Linked DNA regions of Homo sapiens. The protein of the gene in region 2 purifies or fractionates together with the protein of the main gene of each other region. This does not show direct contact. Each region holds a gene or a part of one and is shown on either strand. Other genes may lie near its edges. The genes, in order: OGDHL, KMT5B and CARS1.

The links.
Region 1: the proteins of KMT5B (region 2) and OGDHL purify together in Homo sapiens (affinity purification with mass spectrometry; one large-scale study listed by BioGRID and IntAct). This does not show direct contact.
Region 3: the proteins of KMT5B (region 2) and CARS1 purify together in Homo sapiens (affinity purification with mass spectrometry; one large-scale study listed by BioGRID and IntAct). This does not show direct contact.

What each region holds. Positions count from the first base shown.
Region 1 is NC_000010.11:49,755,699-49,759,347, forward strand, and holds part of OGDHL (2-oxoglutarate dehydrogenase-like, mitochondrial), read right to left. Parts: intron 2,896-3,649; 5' UTR 2,895-2,895; coding exon 2,691-2,894; intron 1,249-2,690; coding exon 1,078-1,248; exon of another isoform or gene 767-1,077; intron 1-766.
Region 2 is NC_000011.10:68,171,797-68,175,445, reverse strand, and holds part of KMT5B (histone-lysine N-methyltransferase KMT5B), read left to right. Parts: intron 1-262; coding exon 263-428; intron 429-1,532; coding exon 1,533-1,642; intron 1,643-3,649. UniProt on the Homo sapiens protein: Histone methyltransferase that specifically methylates monomethylated 'Lys-20' (H4K20me1) and dimethylated 'Lys-20' (H4K20me2) of histone H4 to produce respectively dimethylated 'Lys-20' (H4K20me2) and trimethylated 'Lys-20' (H4K20me3) and thus regulates transcription and maintenance of genome integrity.
Region 3 is NC_000011.10:3,050,873-3,054,521, forward strand, and holds part of CARS1 (cysteine--tRNA ligase, cytoplasmic), read right to left. Parts: intron 1-3,649. UniProt on the Homo sapiens protein: Catalyzes the ATP-dependent ligation of cysteine to tRNA(Cys).

The DNA.
Region 1 (3,649 bases), on a different chromosome or scaffold from region 2:
CTGCCAGGAAAACTCTCTAATGCCTCGTCTTGGTTAATCAAAGAACAAAGAGCTACTGAAGGGCTGAGATCTGTGCTTAGAAGATAAGGCCCTCGGGCAGCACCCTGAACGTTTCCCTGTATTTAATATACAGTTTTACATCCTTGTTCTTCATTTTTGAAGTCAAGGGTTAGATCACTGTCTGCTTCTTTCAGCCAGCCAGGAAAGACACAATACACAATAGCTGCTGTTTGCTCCTAGGTGGCCCACAATTGATGGGTCCTCAGGCCAGAAGGGAACCCAACCCTGCTCACCTTCCCTCTTCCATCCCCAGGTGGGTGGTGTACAGGGAACTCTGTTCCATCCCACAGATTGGGCAGCTCATTCAGAGGCAAAGCATCATTTCCATTTGCTAATGCCCCCCTGTACCCTAGCCTTGCTGTGGCTTGCTGCTGCCTCACATTTCCCTGACGGAATACCTCCTGCCAGCAGTTCCCAGAGATATTCCAAATGATTACGCTTGTTATGGCCTGAACACCGCAGCAGTCCTCCAATTAGTCCTGTCTGGTCAAGACCAAAAACACACACCATCACTGGGACTCTGACAGAGCAGGGGCCCAGCATGGGAGAGCCTAAGTCTCCAGGAGGAGCAACTGGTGGGGGAGAATTGTTTACTGAACCATTCATTCCATAAACATGAATTAGGCACCTGCTGTATCAGTCCCTGTTCTCCCAGGATGCCCATTCTAGAGGAGAAAACAGAATTAACAAGGGTTAATCTACTCACCCCTCATTCAACAGGCTTTGGAATTGATCCCTTACTAAGTGCTCCTCCACGTACTCGGGGCATGGTGTGTGCAAGGAACAGACCACAAGGACACAAGTCAGTATGCACAAAAAAAAATTCAAGCAGGTGGTAAGTGCTCTGAATGGTGATGTGGCAAAGACTGGCTAGAGGAGTAGGTGCCGCTCAGTAGAGGACAAGGAGAAGGGCTCTCTGGGGAGATGATGTTGGAGCTGAGACCCCTTCCCTTCAGTGCCTGGCCACACCCCAGGAGCCAGTGCAGCCTCCCAGGCTGTGCCTCAGCTGCCCCTCACCTGGTAGGCCCGGATCAGGGACTGCACAGCCAGGTGGTCCTCCACCAATTTGCTGGTCTTGGTCCGACTTGAGACTGCAGACCTGCTCTCATGGACAACAGAAGGGGGCCGTGGCTGAGCAGAGCCAGAAAAGGCTTCCTCGCTGGCTTCCCTGAAGAAGCTGTCCCAGGACTAGGCAGGGCAGAAACAAGAACGCAGCCAGGTCAGGGCCTGGGAAGAGTCAGGGGTGGCCCAGGCTGGGGCCCCAAGGAGTGTCAGGTCTTCCTTGAGGACCACAGCTCTCAGGGCCTTCCCAGGGTGCCTAGATGTACATACAACGATGTTCCCTGCAGAACTGTTTACAAAAATTGACAATGTGAAAACAACCTACATGGCTATCCATAGAAAACTGGCTAAATAACGATTTTACATTTAGAATCTGGAAGATTACACAGTCTTTTAAAAAGGTGCTTTCAGTATTGTGGACATGGAATATTGCCAAGATACGTTTTAAAGTGAATGAAGCAGAAGAGGATGTATGGCTGCTACTCTCTGTGTAGAAGCAAAAAGCAGATGTGAACACACACAGGCATTTGCATGTGTTTTCCATAAGAACAATGTAAAAGCGCTTTCCTCCGTGCACTCCCATACGGCACTGGTGGGAGACTCAGTTGGTACAATCCCCATGGAAAGCAACTTGGCAATACCCATCAAAATTATACACAGCCACTCCTGGACCCAACTATTCCACTTTGGGGAATTTACCCTACAGATGGCTCTGCAGGTGCAAGATGATGAAGGTGTAAGATGATGCACTGCAGCACTGTTCGCCACAGTCAGAGACTAGAAATGAACCAGATGTCCATCAGCAGGAATAGGGGTGGCACATACATGCAATGGAATACTACACAGCTGGACAGAGTGAATAGTGAGGCTCTTCATGTACTGATATGGAAAGATCTTGGAGATACATCACCAAGCGAAAACAGCAGGGAGCAAAACAGTATGTGTTACAGGTTACTTTTGCGTAAAGGGAGACAAATCCAGAGTTACATTTGCAGTAAGTTTACCTAATGCAAGTCTTGGAAAGGATATAGAGGACACTAAGTTGGGGGACAGTGGGAACTGAGCAGATGAGGATAGATTAGGAGGGAGCTTTCTGACTGTGTAACTTCTTATACCTTCTGGCTTTGGATCATGTGACTGCACTGCTTTCCACTGCAGGTGAAGGGGTCAGAGAACAACTTCACTTTTCACCCTCCCATCTAATTTAATTTTTTTCTTTACTATCAGCAAGTATTTATTTTATCAGATCAATACATACACAAACACGTATGTCCCTAATTACATACAAAGGAGCATATGGAGGCAGCATAGCACGACAAAGGGGGCACGGCAGGGCTCAGGTGTGGCTGAGCAGGACATGGCCAGGGCCTCTCAATCAAAACCACCACCCACTGGCTGATTCAGCAAAGGGAAAGCAACAGGCTTTGATGACTGAGGACCTGAGAGGCAAAGAAACCTGCCCAGGATCACACAGCAGGCAAGCTGCTTCTCCCCACTGCCCTGCCACAGCCCGGCCCCCGAGGGCTTCCCTCCCTTGCGGTGGCCCAGGGTAGGGTGGGGATGCTGACCTTGTGGACACTCTGGGGGTTTTCCAACCAGGCGAAGTACATCTCCTCCATGTAACTGGAGCCGCCTCCACCTTTGCTGCTTGGGAAGGTGGCCGGTGGCCCGGAGGACCTGCTGCGCCAGCCAAACACCGGGACGTCATGTGCAGCCAGGAGCCTCGCAGCCTGTACCCCAAGACGGGACGGCAGCAGCCTCAGCTGACTCATTCTGGACACAGGCAATGAAGGAGAGGCATAAATGGCAGGACCAAGACAGGAAGAGGCTCTACCAAGCCACTGTCCGCTCATCAGCACTTGTCATTCCCACTGGGCAGATGGTGCTGGGCTAGGCAGTGATGAGACTGGGAATGTGACACTCTCCCAGCCCCCTGGGCTTACTGTCTGGTGGAAGCTCCCAGCTCAGTAAACTCTATCAATAGATATCAAACAGCCCTGAGCCCCAGCCCTGCTGTGCCACACTCATCCCAGACCACACTCCTTCCCGGATAGTCCCCAAAGCCTGTGCAGAGACATGAACTCCCCAGGCCCTGCCTCAGGGAGCACCCACCTAGGTCCTGGAGCCCACTCGGAGAGCCACAGGGCAGGTGCAGGGAGTACCACCAAGAAGGAGTGGGTCTCAGGCCCACCACCCTAGAACCAGGGCAGGCAGTCCTCCAGGGGTCAGGTGTGTTGTGCATGGTCAGGGAAAAGCAGGGGCAAAAGCATCCAGTGAGCACAGGTGTCGGGGGTGATAGAGGCACACTATCTCAGGAGGGCTGTGGCTCTAGTCATTGCGACCAAAAGTGACCAGTGACTCCCTGTGACTGCAATCCTGGGCCAGAGTGCCCTCTCTCCCAGGCCCAGCCAGAAGGCTGGTGACACTAGGCCCAACAATAGCCCCACTTCATTGCAGGAAGGGCTAAGGTCTGGAGGGGCAGGAAGAGTAGAATGGAAGGCAGCCCCAGGCCCAGCCCAGCGCCACT
Region 2 (3,649 bases):
AAAAAGAGAAGTTACTGAGATAACAGTGAAATAAAAATATTAAAATAACAGATTGAAAAAAGAGAACTTGCGTATCCAGGTGATCAGTATTACTTGAATAGTAGTAATCAAGACTATTGATTGTTGTTCTCTTCTCTTAGATCTTTGCTCTGATAACCATGGCTGTTTTTAGGGTATTAGCTCTTTCTCAAGATCTGTTAAGATGGATCAGTGGCGCAAGGATTGTGGCAGATAACCCATTCATTCTTTTGATTTCTTTCAGATTTAGGCCTATTAAAGGAAGGCAGGAAGAACTAAAGGAAGTAATTGAACGTTTTAAGAAAGATGAACACTTGGAGAAAGCCTTCAAATGTTTGACTTCAGGCGAATGGGCACGGCACTATTTTCTCAACAAGAATAAAATGCAGGAGAAATTATTCAAAGAACATGTAAGTTTATTAAGACTGATGCTGTTAACCTATTTGGATAAGAATAGTGAAGTAAATTAAAACCCTAAATGTTAGTTAATACTGAAATTTTAAATTTATTTTTCATAAAACTAATCAGTCTGAAGATCTTGTAACACATACAGTCATTTGGATGACAGTCCAGAGAAAAAACTGGGCCAGGCTCAGTGGCTCATGCTTGTAATCCCAGCACTTTGTGGGGGCTAAGATGGGAGTATTGCTTGAGGCCAGGACTTCGAGACCAGCCTGGGCAACATAGCAAGACTCCATCTCTAAAAAAATAAGAATAAAAAAATTAGCTAGGCATAGTAGTGTGTACCTTTGTAGTTTGTAGTTCCGGCTACTCAGGAAGCAGAGCCAGAAGCATTGCTTGTGCCCAAGAGTTAGAGGCTGCTCTGAGCTATGATCATGCCACTGCGCTCCAGCCCTGGGAGACAGAGCAAGACCCTGTCTCTAAAACCAAAAAAGGAGAGAAAACTTTGTCATATAGAGGTGAAATTCATTATGAGCCTTAAGGGAAACAAGCCATTAGGTACTCATACAGAGTGAGTACCCTTAACCCCAAAATTTGAAATGCTCCAAAATCTGAAACTTTTTGAACACCGACCTGACACTCAAAGGAAATGCTCATGGGAGGATTTTGAATTTTTTGTTTAGAGGTGTTCAGCTAGTTACTGTAATGCAAATATTGCAAAATGAGAAAAATTGTGACATTCAAAACTCTTGAGTAACAATAAAGTTTGTTACCTAATGATCTTACTTTTTTTGTTTATTTTATTGTTTTTTTAGAGGCAGAATCTTGCTCTGTCACCCAGGCTGGAGTGCAGTGGCCTGATTATGGCTCACTGCAGCTTCCATCTCTTGGGCTCAAGTGATTCTTCCTCTCAGCCTCCCACGTAGCTGGCACTAAAGGTACATGCCATCATGCTTGGCTAATGTTTTTCGTAGAGACAGGGTCTCGCTATGTTGCTCAGGCTAGATCTTACATTTTTTTCATCATTGCGGGTGGTTTGCTTTTATAATTGTAAGAAAGTCTAGCAGGGTATACCATTTAAAGTCATTATCAATTTTTTTTTCCTGTTTTAGGTATTTATTTATTTGCGAATGTTTGCAACTGACAGTGGATTTGAAATATTGCCATGTAATAGATACTCATCAGAACAAAATGGAGCCAAAATAGTTGCAACAAAAGAGTGGTAACTATTCTACTAGTATAAGCCTTTAATTTAATTTAAAGTTCTCTTCTAAATTATTGTTGAAGTGCTGAGAAATTCATGGTAAGGAATGAAGCCAGAGTTTACCCTGAAGTAGCCAATGCATCGCCGTTGCCTTGGCCCATCAGCTGGAGTCAGAGTGGGGAAATCGGAAGTCTCAGTTGAACCAGATCCCATCTCTAGGCCAAATTGCTTTTCATTTTCCTTTATTGACTCTGGATGCCTGTTCAGTGATATGATTGCTGAAGAGTTGTGGATACCGTGATTAGATAACCTGGCTTCCACAGTCAGTCTTCTACTGGCCTAGAAGAAAGGTTGGGGCTAAAGTTTTAATGATCCTAGTTTTATGGGTGGAAACCTCCCTAAAGCATTAGTTGCTTAAAAATACATACATACAGATATATATATATGTATATATGCCAGCTTCAATAAAAATAGTAGAGTTGGTGGGGGGCATTGGCTCACGCCTATAATCCCAGCACTTTGGGAGGCCGAGGCAGGCAGATCACTTGAGGTCAGGAGTTCAAGACCAGCCTGGCCAACATGGTGAAACCCCATCTCTACTAAAAATACAAAAATTAGCTGGGCGTGGTAGCACACACCTGTAGTCCTAGCTACTCGGGTGGCTGAGGCAGGAGAATCACTTGAACCCAGGAGACAGAGGCTATAGTGAGCTGAGATCGCGCCACTGCACTCCAGCCTGGGCAATAGAGTGAGACTCTATCTCAAAATTAAGTCAGAGTTGAGCCCAGCTAAAAGGGATAAAAGTTACAGATGAAAGAGAATATACTACTGTATCTTCTTTCCTATCATGCCTGTTCCCTATGTTATCTCCCAGGAAAAACATGTAGCTCCTCATGTACCCACCCTCTGATATTTCTACCACAAAAATTTGGGGGGTCAGATATCTGAAAATGGATAGGTAAAAGAACTTTATTGCCAGGCCTCTGGGGTGAGTGTGTGTACATGAAATGTGCTTCATTTACCTCAGGATGTATTGAGCCTGCTAGTTGGATTATGTGGCTCCCTGTGTTGCAGATGGGTGTGTAGGTTTGAGATCTAGAGTCCTAGAGCTGTACCGTCCGGTACAGTAGCCACCAGCCCTTGAGTCCTTGAAATGTAGCTAGTCTGAATTGAGAAGCGCTGTAAGTGTGCTATACACACCAGATTTCATATTAAATTTTATTCCCATTCATAGTTCTTATATTACCTACTGAAATCGTATTTTGGATATTGGGTTAAAATATATTGTTGGCTGGGCATGGTGGCTCATCTGTAATCCCAGCACTTTGGGAGGCTGAGGTGGGCGGATCATGACGTCAAGAAATCGAGACCATCCTGGCCAACACGGTGAAACTCCATCTCTAGTAAAAATACAAAAAAAAAAAATGAGCTAGGTGTGGTGGCACACACCTGTAGTCCCAGCTACTTAGGCTGAGGCAGGAGAATCACTTGAACTCAGGAGGCAGAGGTTGCAGTGAGCTGAGATCACGCCACTGCACTCCAGCCTGGGCAACAGAGCGAGATTCCGTCTCAAATAAAATAAAATAAAATAAATTGTTAAAGTAATTTCACCTATATTCACTTAACTTTCTCAATGTGGCTGCTAAAAAATTTAAGATTGAAAATTTGGCTTGCATTATATTCCTAGCAGATGGTGTGCTCTAAAGAGTGGCACCATGATTCCGGATCCTCATAACCCTTACTGCCACTGGTCCCTGCCTGCTTCATCCAGCAGTCAGAAAGTTTAATTCATTGCCGCAAGTATTTGAGTACTTTCTGCTTGCAAAACACCACACCAGGGCATTCAGAGACATAGGTGGCATAGTCCCTGTCCTGGTTGAGTTTCCATTCTCTTGCAGGAATAAGATAGGTACACAAGTAACCATGGCACAAGGCTGTGGAGCTCCAGGGTAGGAGAGAAGATAGCCAGGTGGGGATCCCAGTGAGCTAACTAAAGTATAGACAGCTAGGCCTTTTCAGTTTCTG
Region 3 (3,649 bases), about 65 Mb from region 2:
GTCTAACACGTGCCCGCATTTCTTTCCTTCACCATCTGCCCCACCGCTCCATCTACCTTATTCACTGCTCGATCTTCAGCATCTACAACTGAGCGTGTGACATTCCAGATATCAGCTAAAGTTGCCTAGGGCACAGATGAGTGGACAGCAGAATGGCACCACAGAGTGCATGCCACCAGTGGTGGGCTGGCGTTCCCCTGTGGCACTGGGCCTCATGCACCCTTCTCAGAAAGACACCTGCACAAGGACCAGTGCTGGGAACCGGCCACAGCCTCTGCTGCTTTGAGCCCCCAGGGGCTTGCTTAGCAGGAGCCCTGCTGCCCAAAGATACCAGAGACATAAGAACAAGTCACTTTTCACTTCAGCTCTTCCAACAGTCCAAGGAAAGAGAAAGACAGGGGTGGACTCTGGCCCCACTGAAGGCGCCTGGGGGGTGCCGGGAGCTCTTGAGGGCCTCTCACCTGCCCCATCCCCACAGTTACAGGCCCAGTGTCAGCACTGACACTGCCGGGGCTTCCCTCTGAGAAGAAGGAGGCTGCTTACATGGAGATGCGCTCTCCTCCCAGCTGGAGATGAGATCAGGGAGGACGGAGGCGGAGGCAGACCCACAGAGGCAGCTCCAAGCACCCCAAAGTGAGGTCCTGGAAAACTAACTCTAAATAAATATCAGACTCCTACAAACTCTTTTGCAGAGCAACTTCCAGCCAGGAGACTTCTAGTTTAGCTGGATATTTCCCTCCAACAGCTCTGCAGCTGCCAGCAGGGGTCCCATTTCATGATAAAGAAAATGAAGTTCACTAAAGATTAGAGAACTTGCCAGAGGGATGGACAGAGCTGGAAGGTGAGCCTTGTCCCCTCACAGATCAGGCCACAGTTCGAAAGCTGTTCCCCAATGCTGACCCTCCACATTCCTCTCCCCTGTCCCCTCCCTGAGCCTTGGTCTTCTGCAACTGCTCATGCCTGGGTTGGACTCCACGACAGCAAGAGGGAAGAAGAGACAACAGCAGCACCCTGAGAAACAGTGACACAGCATCGGCTTCCAGCTGAGACAGCGAGCTGACAGTCACGTGCCTCTCACACTCAGAATGGATTCTGATGGAGAGACCACCAGCAACAGCCCGAACACTGACAGTGACGATGGTTGATGAGAGGGGGTGACAGGTGATTTTAATTCCCTCTTTTTCTTCATTGCTCACATTTTCTGCAGTAAGCATCTGCTATTTTTAAAATGAGAAAAACATCAAATGTCCTAACGGCGGCTGCAGTGGCTTTTGAGCGCTGAGGAAGCAGTCTGGGAACTGAAGCCGCTGTGTATCCGCTCTCTGGAGACCTGAGGGGCGGCCCCGACGCCCTCCAGGGCTGAGTACCTACACTCACACACACGGCGGCATTTCCTCACGGTAAAACACGCTCATAACATCAGCCCTGTAAAGCTGCAGGCCATTAAGTCAAATGACACTTGTAAAATGTTTAAAAGCTGCCTGGCACAGAGCCAGGGGCCCCATTTGCCATCATTATTATCATAATCGCTCTGGTATTATTAATGTTATTGTAATAGCCGCATGCTACACACAGAGAATTTCCTGGAGTTTTCCTAGGGCTCACACACCCATTTTTATTTAATTAATTTTATTATTTTAAAAGTTTATTACCAAATCTGCCTTGATCTTGGATCACATAATTCTTAAATGTACCGTCTAGAGCAGGCTAGACGGCTCATCAAAAGGGAACCAAGACCATGCTTGGGAAGGATCTTCTCAGAGCAGAAAGGTGCTGGTGCCCAGGGAAGCACAGGAGAATGACAGGCTTCCATGAGATGGACGCAGACAGTCATTTGGGTAATCGTGGTAGCTGCATTTAAGTGTGTCTCGAGGAAACAAATAAAAATAGGTCAGCTTTCAAGTGGTCATGGGTTTGAGCCAGGCTGTGGATCAGTCTGATGCTGAGATCAGATGAGAACACTTCTGAGCAGACTGAAAACCTCCCAGGGACCTGTTCCTCGACACTGGCCCTCATCGTAGAGCCTGCACGCTCCGTGCCGAAACTCCTGCTCTGCCCCCATGAGAAGGAATGTCCACCACCGGATGACCTTGCAGTTCAGTTCATCAACACATTGAGGGACATGGGAATGTCCCAAAGGTGGATGGTGGTTGTCACCGGCTACAAAGGTGGAGTCTCTACAGAACATTTATTGAAATCACATGCAAGTACCAAGCAATTGCTCAGCACAGATACCAAAACAAAGCCACACCAAATGAACAACAACCCTGACACGTCAAACAACTGTGGCAGTGCGACCTCTCCCTCTCTCTGGCTCTTTCCTATCAGCATTTATTTTTTATTTATTTTTATTTTATTTTATTTTATTTTATTTTTTGAGACGGAGTCTCGCTCGTCACCCAGGCTGGAGTGCAGTGGCATGATCTCGGCTCACTGCAAACTCTGCCTCCCGGGTTCAAGCGATTCTCCTGCCTCAGCCTCCCGAGTAGCTGGGATTACAGGTGCCCGCCACCATGCCCAGCTAATTTTTGTATTTTTAGTAGAGACGGGGTTTCTACATATTGGCCAGGCTGGTCTAGAACTCCTGACCTCAGGTGATCCACCCACCTCGGCCTCCCAAAGTGCTGGGATTACAGACGTGAGCCACCATGCCTGGCCTCCTGTAAGCATTTAAACCTCTCCCGGCTGCCCTGTTTCTCTTCCTGCGTTCCCTTGAGGCTCTCCCAGGTCCACTCCAGGCATGGCCCTGGTGTGCCTTCAGCAGCAGAACCTGGGGGATCCAGAGAAGTCACATTCTTGGGCTCACCAGAGACCTGCCAAATCAGAATCTCTGGGGTGGGCCCAGCAAGTGAGGTTTAAACCAGCTTCCCCATGGGTGGAAAGCTTGCTAAAATGCAGACCCCTTTACAGCAGGTCTGAGCTCCTAATAAGTGCCCCGGTTTGGTGGGGGTCTGCACCCCTCACTCACCCTGACCCTTTGCCCTCTGACCCTGCTACTTCAAAGGTCCCACCAGGGTCCTCATCTTGTGGGTGTCCAGGCAACATCTCACCCTGCAGGTTACTCCCTTTCTGCAAATGTTCCCCTGGTCCCACCCTCTACAGCTGCTCCTCTTGGGTCCTTCCCAGTGATCCACTCCCTGCCCAAGAAGTGTTCAGAAAGGGGACCGGAAAAAGCCCCCAGACATGAATCGTGGGGAGGAGAGAGGGGCATGCACCCCTGCTCTCACCAACTAGGAGCCAACACTGCCCACTCCCAGAGACCAGCGCCTCCTCCCACAGGTGAGGGCTTCCCCTCCCACTCCCCGTCCTGATCACCAGCCCCGGAGGTCCAGCTGCAACTCGTTCACAAAGGTGGCCCCCAGGCATCCTCTCTCACCCCCAAGAACAGCATCTCCATCTTCCTCCTTACTGGGAGGGAGGTTATTCATTATTAGGGGCATCCAACATCCCTCACAATGAGCCTGTGGGGTGATCAGACAGCAATATTGCCACCCAGAGCACCCACACTGGAAATGGCTTAATCTCCACCCCAAGGGTACTGCCTAAGGCTCTTCAAATACCCGGAAACATGGTACCTGAGTTCATAGAGGAGCAAACATTTCATGTGGCTCTGGGGAAAACATCGAAGGGCATCAGCTTTATTCTCGTC